Regions from separate parts of the Homo sapiens genome. Here regions 1 and 3 are each linked to region 2. The links come from fine-mapping of genetic effects on gene expression. A gene starts in region 2. Each other region holds a variant in brackets. All regions are shown on one strand. Distances are between the middles of the regions.

Region 1 (4,225 bases), 68 kb before region 2:
CTGTGACCTCAGAGGAGTGCTAACCTCGAGGGGGCAACGGCAGTCATCATTGCTCTGGTTAAACCATGTGGCAGAAGAAACTGCAAGTGCAGAACAAGCCCCATGTAAGATGCCACCCACCACAATGTTTGGTGAGGATACAAACATTTCTCCCAGGACCTCCGAAACCCACCAGAGGGCAAGACAGAGGAACTTTTTAATGGAGGCAGCATGGAAAAAGCTGAATTCAGCTCCCTTATTTATTAGCTGTGTGAATCTGGACAATTTATCTTACATCTTTGAGCCTCAATTTTCTCATATGTAAAAGCAAGATAATAATCATGTCCCTTCTAGGGTTTGCCTAGCACACAATAGGATTTTGATAAAACTCTGTTCCCTTTATTCTTGCATTTCTTAAGTCTCAGAGAAGTAAAGGGTTCAAGGGAATTTGTGGTAAGCAATGAAAAGCACTTCATCCTTCTGTGTTAGGCACCCATTTGGCCATGGCCAGTGGCCCTAATTTATGGTACCAAAGAAACAAGAACAGAGGATGTCACACCCAAAAGTAGACACAGTATTTCCAAAGGTCATCAGTATCCACAAACGACACACCTCAGTGTCTTCGAGGAATCCTGTTCACTGCTATAAAATTAGCATTTCACAATCTCTACCTTTTCCTCTTGAATAATTAAGTAAAATGGAATAGGCTGTAGTTACCAACTACTTGGTATGCAGAGGTGAGAGGACTGCTTAAGCCTAGAAGTTCAAAGCCAGCCTCGGCAATATAGCACGATTCTCTGTCTCCTATTAAGTAAATGTTCAACTGCTCATCTGCCCTAAACAATTTCCAGGTTCGCAGGCTTGCTCTCTGTTTGAACTTACCAGACTAGGGAAGGGAGACCACATGGTATAATGAAAAAGTTTGGAGTCAGGTAGACCCGGAATTGGAATCCAAGGATTGCCATTTAAAACCTGTGTGATGTTGAGGGAGTCTAAATTTAACTTCCCTTAATTCAAATCCTTCATCTGTAAGTGTGACATATTAAAGGAGTATTATGGGAACTATATAAAGTTATGCCTACCACAGCACCTAGCAAAGAGGAGGCACACAATTCGTGTTAATTTCCTCACTGTCTCAAAGTCCCCAGTCACCAACTGTAGTAGTCAATTAAGCAGGCTTTCAAAAGCTGGCTGTATGACTGGCCTATCCTACCACTATAAGTGTTTACCAGGCACACACTACTATGTACTAGCACTGTAGGAAATAGCAAAGAAATGATCTCATTCCTCAAGCAGATTACCAGAAGAAGCAGGAGTTATTTATAAGGAAGGCAAATATGAAAAGGAGCTAAATTTAAAAAGATAAAACAACAAACCACACAATTGGGCAAAGGATTTAAATAGGCATTTCTCCAAAGGAGATATACAAACAGCCAATAAGCATATGAAGGATGCTCGACATCACTAATCATGAGGGAAATACAAAACACAATGAGATACCACTTAATCATTAGGATGGCTATTATCCAAACAATGGAAAATAACAAGTGTTGGCAAGGATGTTCTCCATATCCTTGGAACCCTTGTGCATTGCTGGTGACAATGTAAAATGGTGCACCTGCTGGGGAAAACAGTATGGGGGTTCCTAAAAAAAGTAACTAAAAAGGGAATTTGGGGAAGACTGTGGTAGGAAGCACCAGGAATTTATCTTCCCAACTAAATAATTGCACTGGTGCACTCTGTCTGATGTAACTATTTTGTAGCTCTAGAGTCTATTGAAGGCTTGCAACATCCAGAGGAAGGCCTGGATGATGAATTATAATTACTTTCAGTCTATTTCAGCTGTCATCATAATAGCACCAGCCATCTCAAAGCTCCCATCCCCACTGCAGGCAGCTACGCACTTATTCCTGGAGTGGCTTGCACACAGTTTGTGGGAGACAGCAGGGGAGAAAAGGACCCTGTCCTCTAAATATGAATCTATGCTCTGATCAATGTTGGCTGCTTCTGATCACAAAGGTGCAGACAGAGACACAGACGGTAATCACTGTTGTTGCACCTCCACCACACTGCTGCAAGGTCTTCCCACTCACGCTGAAGTGACTTTCAGAGGATTAAAGGGGGCAGCATTTTTTTCACCCTCCTTCACTTTTTTCTTTTTCCCTCTCTGGGACCCGGACATTAAAGACCAGGATATTCAAAAGCAACCACATATATAGGGGAAATTAGAAAGTTGCTATGCATGCCCAGGGAAGAGCACAGGCTCAGAAAAGATCTGAGGAGACCTAACATGTATACCTCTGGCTGATTCTTGGCACAGACACATCCTGTAACAATCAAAATACCAAAAATAAACCCAAAAAACAGTAAACCCAGAGAAGGGGGAGAATCTGTTTCCACAGTTACCATATTACTGGATTTAAATGTCCAATTTTCAAAAAAAAAAAAA[T/AT]CACCAGTCATACAAAGAAACAGAAAAGTATGGCTCATTCAAAGGAAAAATATAAACCAACAGATACTGTCCCTGAAAAAAGACAATGGCAAATCCACTAGACAAAGACTTTAAAACAACTGTCTTAAAGATGCTCAAAGAGCTAAAGGAGACATGGAGAAAGCCAAGAAAACAATGTATAAACAAATGGAAAATATCAATAAAGAGACAGAAAACCTAAAAAGAAATGAAAAATAAGTTCTGGAACTGAAATAACTGATACGAAAAATTCAATGCAGGGATTCAAAGGCAGATTTGAGCAGGCAGAAGAAAGAATGAGTGAATAATGAGTACAATGAATACTATCTAGTCTGAGGAACAGAAAGAAAAAAGATTAAGGAAAAGTGAACTGATCTAAGGGATTGATGAGACACCATCAAGTGGATAACCGTATGCATTGTGGGAGTCCCAAAAGGAAAACAGAAAGAGAAAGGGAGAGAAAACATCTGAAGAAACAATGGCCAAAAACATCCCAAATTTGATGAAAGAGATGAATACAAACATCCAAGAAGCTCAACAAACTCAAAACAGGATTCAGAGACCCACACCAGGACACATTATAATCAACCTTTAGAAAGGGCCAGGCACACTGGCTCACGCCTGTAATCCCAGCACTTTGGGAGGCCAAGGTGGGCAGATCACTTGAGGTCAGGAGTTTGACACCAGCCTGGGCAACATGGCAAAACCCCATCTCTACAAAAAAATATAAAAATTAGCCAGGCGTGGTGGCAGATGCCTGTAGTCCCAGCTACTTGGGAGGCTAAGGCAGGAGGATCATCTGAGCCTGGGATGCAGAGGTTGCAGTGAGCTGAGATTGCACTACTGCACTCTAGCCTGGGTGACAGACTGAGACTCTGTCTCAAAAAACAAACAAAAAGACAACGAGAAATTTGAAAGCAGCAAAAGAAAAACACCTTATCACATAAAAGGGAACCTTAATAAGATTATCAACAGATTTCTCATCAGAAACCTAGGGGGCCATAAGGTGGTAAACTGCTAAAAGAAAAAAAAACAAAAAACAAAAAACCTGTCAACCAAGAATTTTATATCCAGTAAAACTATCCTTCAAAAATGAGGGAGAAATTAAGCGTATCAGTCAGGAAAAAAAAAAAAAAAAAAAAAAAAAAAAGCTGAGGGAGTTTCTTAATACTAGACCTGCCCTGCAAGAAATGCTAAAGGGGGTCCTGCAGGTTGAAATGAAAGCACACTAGAGAGTTGAGTGAAGAAATAAAGATCTCAGTAAAGGTAAATATATGGCAAATTATAAAAGCCCATGTACTGTTCATGCCTGTAATCCCAGCACTTTGGGATGCCAAGGAGGGTGGATCACGAGGTCAGGAGATTGAGACCATCCTGGCTAACACGGTGGGACCCCGTCTCTACTAAAAATACAAAAAAATTAGCCAGGCGTGGTGGCGGGCGCCTTTAGTCCCAGCTACTTGGGAGGCTGAGGCAGGAGAATGGCGTGAAGCCGGGAGGCGGAGCTTGCAGTGAGTCGAGATCACGCCACTGCACTCCAGCCTAGGTGACAGAGTGAGACTCCATCTCAAAAAATAAAAAAATAAATAAAAAATAAAAAAAAAAAAGCCCATGTATTTACAGGGGTTTTTGTAACCATGGTTCGTAACTCTTTTGTAACCATGGTTTGTAGCTCCACTTTTGGCTTTCTGCGTTAAGAGACTGATACATTAAAAAAAATTAGTCTAAAAGCTAATGTTATTGTAACTTTAGTTTATAACTCCATATTTTGTTTTTTTA
Region 2 (4,225 bases):
CTTCCCCAGATACCAGAGGAAAGGGGACTTCAAAACACTCTAGCTAACCTCTACTACTTTATCTGTAAAATGGGATTACTGCAAAAATTATATGTAAATGTATGTAAAGTACCGGGCACAGGGGAATAGGCAAATTCTAACATCGGAAATGCTCGAATGCTGTTGGTTCATGGGCAAGAAAACAAATTAAAAAGATGCCACACCGCTTCCCCCTAAAATATGTTTCTGCCCTGCCATAGAGGCAAGAATGTCAAAGGTGGCAATTATTATATTTCTTATAACAGATATGACACTCTGGCCCTTCCAAGGAAATAGAAAAACGTAGCAAAGCTAGTAGATGCTGCTCACCATTCAAAGCTGCCCCAATCCAGTCCCCAGAATGTAGGTCTGAACTAGTCTTGAAAGTCACACCTTAAAGTGAAACACCCTTAGATCTATTAGCTTGCCTATTTCTGAATTACAGCTCCTATCAAGAACAGAGAACTTCTAAAATCGGCGACTCTTTTTAGGCCCCAGATTTAACCAATTTGCGTTAGCAACCCCGGAGCTTAACCAAAGCACTCCCAGCTGTCCTAGCGTGTGGGTAACAAAAAAAGCAGCAAATGGTCCTCAATTAAACATCAGCTGCTTTATCTATTTATTGAACACTCACTGTATTGCAAACACAATAATCCTCCCATTCTTGTCTCAAACGCTTAGAGAAGTCTAAAAATCATGGACAGAGAACAACAATGGAAAACACCAGTGCCTGCTGTCTGGCCAACCTCTACAAGATTAGAAAACGGACCAAGACACCTTCTGAGAAGAAAAAGCTGTTTCTGGAGACCTTTGCACTAAAGGGTTCAAAGCAAGTGGACACCTATCACATATCCCTTCAGAAAAGGAACCTCTAACACCCGTTTTTAAGAAACAGACTGTTCTTAGAGGTCCTATAATCCATCCACTGTGTGAGCCAAATCTCACTACATCAGCCATGAGCACTAGAGCCAAAAATTAATTAGCTCGTCTTTTAAACAGGAGGCTGTAGCTGGGAGAAACGGCTGTTTTGAAAATAAATAAGGGCACTGGCGCCCACGCTGGCTTAGCTTGCAGTCACACGCACTTCCATCAGGGGAATCGAGGCCAGGACAGATGGTGACTTTTTTTTTTTCCTACTAGCACGGTGAAGGCTTTTTCTGTGCGTTCCCGTCCGCAGTCCCTGACCCTAGTCTGGGAGGCAGCCCGCTCTGCAAGGGGACAGGGCGGGCTGGAGGAGGGTGGGAGGTTAGGACACCGACCTGAGGAGTTCAGATCGTTGGGTCGGCTCTCGGCCTCGGAGCTCTGCTCACTGCCCATGGTGCCGACAGCGGTGGCAGCAGAAGAACGGCGGGCCGGGCGGTCACCGCTCCGGCGGCGGGCGACAGGGCAGGGGCCAGGGACCGGGACGGGGAGGCAAAGCAGAGTCTGGGCGCCGCAGCGAGGCTAATGTGTGGGGCTGACGCGTCCAGCCCACGCAGGGGCCTGGGCGGCGGGAGAAGGAGAGGCCCTATTTGGGGAACAGAAACGCAAGGAGGCGCGGCGCGAACGCACGCGGCTAGCCCTCCTTCTTTCCGGGAGCCCTAAGAGAACCGGCAGATGACACTGGCTTTGCCGCACCTGCGGCCGGCGGGCGGCGCCGCTTTCACTCACTGGTTCACGCTCCGCAAGCTCGCTCCTTCCGGGACGCAGATGGGCGGTGCCGGCTACGCAAGACCTTCAGTTCCGGATTAGGAGGCCCCGCCCCCCGGCCCGAGGGAGGGGCGGAGAGACCCGCTCCTGCGACTTAGGGCGATGCCACCTTAAAGGGCTTGACCTCCTCGAAGCCAGAACTGCGGAAGAGGGTAAGCCCTTTCCTGTTGTAAGGATGCGTCACCTTTAAAACACCACCCACACTATTAAGCTCTTCAATACCCACATGTGAGAACAACTTTACAAAATAGGTATTTTTAACCCTGTTTTACAGATGGAGAAAGAAACGCTAGATAGACCCAGGATTCGAACCCACAACAGCTTGGATGCAAAGCTCATTTTGAATTCTGAAGAGCTGGGAGTTTAGCAGTGGACGACCAAACAAAAAAATACCAGAAGACGGTGAAAGCAGCAGCTGGAAATGAGAGAAAAATTAAGAAATAGAAAATGCTGTTTCATGTATTAGGGAGTGCACATCTTTAAAGAGAAGTGAAGAACCTTTTTGGCTAGGCGCTTTCTGGGGACCTTGGCAGTTATCAACAAGTCACTCTGAAACTAACAGAAGGTGAGGAGGGAGTAATCCAGAAAGGAAACTGCCATTTTTGCTAGGGCAAGAAAGTAGACCTAGCAATGCAATGCCATCAAGGAGTTAGCTGGCTCTAGCGTTCTCCGAACTTTGCAACTCATTTTATATTACATTGTCTGCGTCAAGAAATTTCAAGTAAATGCCTTGAGATTTTATATGTATAAAATGTAGTCTCTGGCCAGGCGGGGTGGCTCACGCCTGTAATCCCAGCACTTTGGGAGGCTGAGGCGAGTAGATCACGATGTCAGGAGATCAAGACCATCCTGGCTAACATGGTGAAACCCCGTCTCTACTAAAAAATACAAAAAATTAGCCGGGCATGATGGTGGGCGCCTGTAGTCCCAGCTACTCGGGAGGCTGAGACAGGAGAATGGTGTGAACCCGGGAGGCAGAGCTTGCAGTGAGCCGAGATCGCGCCACTGCACTCCAGCCTGGGCGACAGAGCGAGACTCCGTCTCAAAAAAAAAAAAAAAAAAAAAAGTCTCAGAAGAAGTGTCAAGTTGACTAAATGATTTTTAAGTCCCTTCCACTCTACTATATCACAATAATTTCCCCTATTTTACCTTATTTAATTTTCACAACAACCCTGCAGCCTGTAAGTAGGTGACTCCTCCATGGTCAGCAGGTGGTCAGTGGTCGAACTATTTAGGACTATCTGATGCTCTTTCCTCTGCTCACCATTGCAATACAATGAGAAAAATGCAAATGAATCTAAGTACAGTGTTCTCTGGGAATATGAAGATAGAACTAAAAACTGCCTGAGAGATCAGGGCAGGCTTCTAGAAAGTTGTGTCTAACTAGTCTTGAGGTTTACATAAACCACACCAGGCTGATGGGACTGGGAAGGGCCCACTAAGCAGTGAGACCATTCCCTTTTGGAGAGTCCTTGCATCCCCTCCCAGATTTCCTCTTTGAGGGGAAGGTGAGAGAGGAGGTAAAAGGGGTGAGGAATGGAGAATAACTCATTCTGGTTCTTGTTTCCCCTTTTCCACATAAAAGTATATTTGTCTTGTGTTCCATACACCAGTCCATACTGATGTGATGGTGTTTTTTATGCTTCCTTTTGAATAAACATTTCATTCTTAAAAGGATAGTCTGTCGCATCAACTGATGAATGGATAAATAAAGTGTGGTAATCATGGAATATTTATTCAGCCAAAATGAGGGAAGGATGAAATCATACTGATACATGCTACAACATAGAGTAACCTTGACAACATTATTCAATATGAAAAAGGCCTGTCAGGCCGGGTGCGGTGGCTCACGCCTGTAATCCCAGCACTTTGGGAGGCCGAGGCGGGCGGATCACGGGGTCAGGAGATTGAGACCATCCTGGCTGACAAACTGAAATCCTGTCTCTACTAAAAATACAAAAAAAATTAGCCGGGCGTGGTGGCGGGCGCCTGTATTTCCAGCTACTCAGGAGGCTGAGGCAGGAGAATCGCTTGAACCCAGAAGGCGGAGCTTGCAGTGAGCAGAGATCGCACCACTGCACTCCAGCCTGGGCGACAGAGCGAAGACTCCGTCTCAAAAAAAAAAAAAACAAAGCGTATCACAAAAGACCACATATTGTAGATTTCATTTATATGAAATGTCCAGGAGAAGCACTACAGAGAGAGAAATATGTTAGTGTTGCCTAAGGCCGAGGAGGGGTACGGGTGGAAGGGAAATGTAGACTATTATTGGGTATGGGGTTTCTTTCTGGGGTTGATGAAAATGTTCTAAAATTGTAATGATGAATGCACAACTCTGAATATATTAAAAACCACTGTAGAGTACACTTTACCAGGGTAAATTGTATGGTATACAAATTCCATATCCATAAAGCTATATTCAGTAAAAGAACATATGAAGATAAAATTCCTTCCTTCACTGGCTTAACATTTCTTGGGAACCTGAAATGTTCTAGGCACTTGCTACACGTTAAAAATA
Region 3 (4,225 bases), 160 kb before region 2:
ACAGTAACCTTAACATAAAGCTGCTGTGTTGGGCGGATTCAGCTTCAGTGATAGGCAAGAGTGCTTTTAAACATTTGGTCTAAGAAAAACAAAACATTAAGATTAATTAGTTGTTGGTGTGTTAATAATTTTAAACTCTGGGCAGGTTTAGATAAGATTTCCATGTCTCCAGTTCTCTCTCACAAGCTTTTCCTCAGTTCTCTAAGAACAAGGATAGTTCATCTTTTTCAGATTGTCTATCTGTACACCTTTCATTTATGCTGTGATTCCGTCTGATCTTTCAATTAGTGTTCTTAAGTGAAGCCAGCTTGTCTTAGAATGTAGTTTTCAGAAGTCTGTAACTGAGAATTATAATATTAGATTCTGTCTCTGTTGATAGACACATTCTTTTACTGGGAGTATGAGTGTGTTAAATGTAACAGCTATTATTAGCATTTCACTAAACTAATTGGGTGAGTTTAGGAACTCATTTCATGTTTCAGGTGGCCACTGTGTGAGGGACTTTACCTTGGAATCCTGTTAATGGGATCAGGGTTTTTCTTTTCTTTTTTTTTTTTTGAGACAGAATTTTGCCCTGTCGCCCAGGCTAGAGTGCGGTGGTGTGACCTTGGCTTGCTGCAACCTCTGCTTCCCAGGTTCAAGCGATTCTCCTGCCTCAGCCTCCCAAGTAGCTGGGATTCTGAGCACCTGCCACCACGCCTGGCTAATTTTTGTATTTTAGTAGAGACCGGGTTTCACCATGTTGGCCAGTCTGGTCTCGAACTTTGACCTCAGGTGATCTGCCTGCCTCGGCCTCCCAAAGTGCTGGGATTACAGGCATGAGCCACCACACCCAGCCAGAGTCTTTCTTAAAGAAGCAATATGCCAAGATGTGCTTCGTGACAGAGTGGTTATCCCACCATGTTCTTGTTTGAGTTACTTTTACCCTATGGGGAGACCTTACTCAACATCTCGGTCAAGTAGACAGCCCCCCAGAGGAGTGAGCTCACATTGAGTTTCTAGCACAGGTGCTTTAGCTACTTGTACCCTTTACTCCTTTACCAAAGAGCATTCCTTTGTTACCTGGGAAGGTTCTTAATCTATCCTGTGTAGCCTTGGGAGGGGCATTCACTGGGCAATAAGGAAGAAACAGGACTGCCTGATTAGCTATGTCAACTCTAGGGACACGTGGTGTGACACACTGAGTCAGAACACCCTGACATCCCTGTTTCAAACAGGAAGTGTTTCTTAGGCCTAACGGCAAGTCCATGGAGGCAGCACCAGGAGCCACATTAAATGTATTAGTAGCACCATATCTTCATCCATACCTCCAGAATCCTGTGTTTCTATTAGCTTAGGAGGTGACTTCAGAGTCTGAATTGCTTGTTTGGGAATTTCTGAGCAGCTGGATTTCTTGTGACACCTAAGAGAGGGTTCTAGATGATTAGAAGCCTTCCCAATCATCCAAAAGCAATTGGGGATTCTCTTGGTTAGTGAATTTTTTCGTCAGGGTAGGTAGATAATTGGGGTAAGTGGATAACAGTATTGGAGAAGGTTTGGCCATCAATTCTTGGGAAACTGTTTTATTGCAAAGGTCCAGCTGCTCAGAGGACAAGCCAGGGATGTGGGACAGAAGGACATATTGACAAAAGTTTCTTAAATATTTTGGTTGGGGAGAAATAACTGAAAAGCACCCTAGTTTCTCACAGGGGCTACTGTAAGTTACAAGGTCACTGGAGACAATTTTCACTACAAACTGCCCCTGTGACTTTCAACAGTTGGAGATTGTTGTCAGTCTCGTTTGGACATGGTAATAGAAAGACAAAGTGGTTTCTTGGAATAATTTTTCCATCGGTTTAGAACTTTCAGCCACCTTGAGAAAAGAAAGCATCAGATATGTGAGATGGTTTTTATGGTCATTAGCTATGGCAGTGAGGAATTGTGGCCCCACATCTACTCACACTCTCAGGGCTACCTTACCCACGGAAGAATGACTGTGAATAAGGAGAACAAGAGGACTCCCAAGAAATTGATAGCAGTATCTTAACGAGCTCTTTTC[C/T]TTCAAACAAGAGGAGACTGACACTTACCTGGAGGACCTACTTACATGGTCATGAAAAATGAAGGATTACTGAAGGAGAAGGAAGTGGGATTTGGGGAACCTCTACAGGAATGCAGTGGGCTTAGTTTTTTAATATGGACCAGGTCTTGTTTACCTTTGTGTTCCCGCAAGGCCTAGCCCTTCTTAAGTTTTCAGTAAATATTTTGATATTAGCTTACCTGAAGGTTTTATATTGTTTATATTTCCTATGATTTATCAGTCTAGAATATAAGCATATTAAGCAGTGATGAAGTCTGAAAGTAGAGAAAACTTCAGATTGTTTCAAAATAGGTGATTTGGAAGGTGTATTTATTCTGATAAAGCAAATATATAGCTGCGATGGGAAAATATCTAATATGAAACTTTCTTCATCCATATAAGCAGATGTGAAGATGGTATTAAAATCTGATGAAAATGCTGCTGTAGTGAAACAGTGCTAATTTTCTGTGGTCCTTAAATACTGATATTTGATAAAGAGCTAACAACCCTAGAAATCTAGCTCCACTCATAGGAATACGCAAGTCCTTGAATTCATGTTAATTGAGAACAGTCAGAATAATTATTGTATTTTTAAAAATGTAAATGTAAATTGATTGCTCTAGTCATTAGTAAATAACCTACTAACCAAGTCAAACTAAGCCATAGCATTGTTTCACTCCCAGTGGATTAAAGGGTTTAATATCAGTAGCAGCTGGGTGTGGTGGTGCACCCCTCTATTTCCAGCTACTCGGGAAGCTGATGGGGGAGGATTGCTTGAGCCCAGGAGTTCGAGGTTACAGTGAGCTGTGATTGCAACACTGCACTACAGTCTGGGTGACAGAGAGCCTGTCTCTAAAAAAACAAAACACAAAATTATCAGTAGCAATCTCATCTTAAAAAAAAAACAAATTTGGATGCTTTAGAAAGTTCTCCATTACTGCCCGGCCATGGTGACTTACACCTGTAATCCCAGAACTTTGGGAGGCCGAGGTGGGTGGATCACCTGAGGTCAGGAGTTCGAGACCAGCCTGGCCAACATGGCAAAACCCCATCTCTACTAAAAATATAAAAATTAGCCGGGCATGGTGGCATCTGCCTGTAGTCTCAGCTACTCAGGAGGCTGAGGCAGGAGAATTGCTTGAACCCGGGAGGCAGAGGTTGCAGTGAGCCAAGATCGCATCACTGCACCCTGGTGTAGGCAACAGAGTGAGACTCTGTCTCAAAAAGAAAAAAAAAGTTCTCTATTACCATTAATGGGTAGGTAATGGCAAACCATTGTTTCCTTTTTTTTTCAATTTTGAAGTCAGGTTATTGAATAAGTACAATTTAAAGACCTGCATATCTTCCCCACAACCCCCCTTGAAATTTAGACTTAAGAATTCATATTGGCCAGGTGCGGTGGCTCACACCTGTAATCCCAGCACTTTGGGAGGCCGAGGCGGGCGGATCACCTGAGGTTGGGAGTTCGTAACCAGCCTGACCAATGTGGAGAAACCCCGTCTCTACTAAAAAATACAAAATTAACCAGGTGTGGTGGCGCATGCCTGTAATCCTAGCTGCTCAGGAAGCTGAGGCAGGAGAATTGCTTGAATCCAGGAGGTAGAGGTTGCGGTGAGCCAAGATCGCACCATTGCACTTCAGCCTGGGCAACAAGAATGAAACTCCATCTCAAAAAAAAAAAAAAGCATATTAATAGAGTAAAAAAATGGGTGTAACATAAATGTATCATAATAATGATTTTATAATCTAGGATGGGCTTTTGGAAGGGAAAAATGCTGTAATTCCTATTTGGCTAAAAAAATTAACTGGGTTTCTCATAATTTGAAAAGAATCTAATTCTATTGAGAATATTTCAGGAAAGCTTATATAATTAAGTATATTAAATAATTAGAATTATAGGAAAATATTGGCAGAATAAACTATATATTTTTTCTTTTTAATAAAGTCCTTTGTGTCTGATAAACTATATTTTGAACTTGTAATGAGAAGTCATAAACGTAGAGAAGACCAACTTCCTGGGAGCAATAGGTAATCTGGGTATAGAAATTGTACAAGGTGCCAGGCATGGTGGCTTATGCCTGTATTCCCAACACTTCAGGAGGCTGAGGCAGGAGGATCACTTGAGCTCAGGAGTTTGAGACCTGCCTGGCCAACAGAGAGAGACCTCGT

Alleles and levels. Alleles are on the strand shown, and positions count from the first base shown. SD is a standard deviation of normalised expression in the study named. Not every link is listed here.
For the expression in NK cells of the gene that starts at base 1,709 in region 2, allele AT in region 1 goes with a higher level than allele T (large effect, 0.81 SD a copy in Schmiedel 2018).

What was found. PIP is the estimated chance that this variant, and not a neighbour inherited with it, causes the effect. A credible set is the group of variants that fine-mapping cannot tell apart.
Region 1: its variant is the best candidate, but not a certain one, in a credible set for the expression of BORCS5 in NK cells (Schmiedel 2018, PIP 0.55).
Region 3: its variant is the best candidate, but not a certain one, in a credible set for the expression of BORCS5 in whole blood (INTERVAL, PIP 0.52).

What each region holds. Positions count from the first base shown.
Region 1 is chr12:12,422,810-12,427,034 of GRCh38, reverse strand. All of the region lies in intron 2 of BORCS5 (BLOC-1 related complex subunit 5), which reads right to left. Among named protein-coding and RNA genes, the nearest start is that of BORCS5, 68 kb to the right of the region's middle. The variant T/AT (reference allele first, on the strand shown) is at 2,429.
Region 2 is chr12:12,354,562-12,358,786 of GRCh38, reverse strand. It overlaps BORCS5 (BLOC-1 related complex subunit 5), which reads right to left and starts at 1,709. Exons shown (of 4, transcript NM_058169.6): 1 at 1,278-1,709. The coding sequence starts at 1,335. LOH12CR2 (loss of heterozygosity on chromosome 12, region 2) reads left to right here and starts at 1,720. Exons shown (of 2, transcript NR_024061.1): 1 at 1,720-1,859; 2 at 1,982-3,379. RefSeq lists enhancers at 280-359, 1,246-1,924 and a silencer at 1,300-1,379.
Region 3 is chr12:12,514,846-12,519,070 of GRCh38, reverse strand. All of the region lies in intron 3 of DUSP16 (dual specificity phosphatase 16), which reads left to right. Among named protein-coding and RNA genes, the nearest start is that of DUSP16, 46 kb to the left of the region's middle. The variant C/T (reference allele first, on the strand shown) is at 2,039.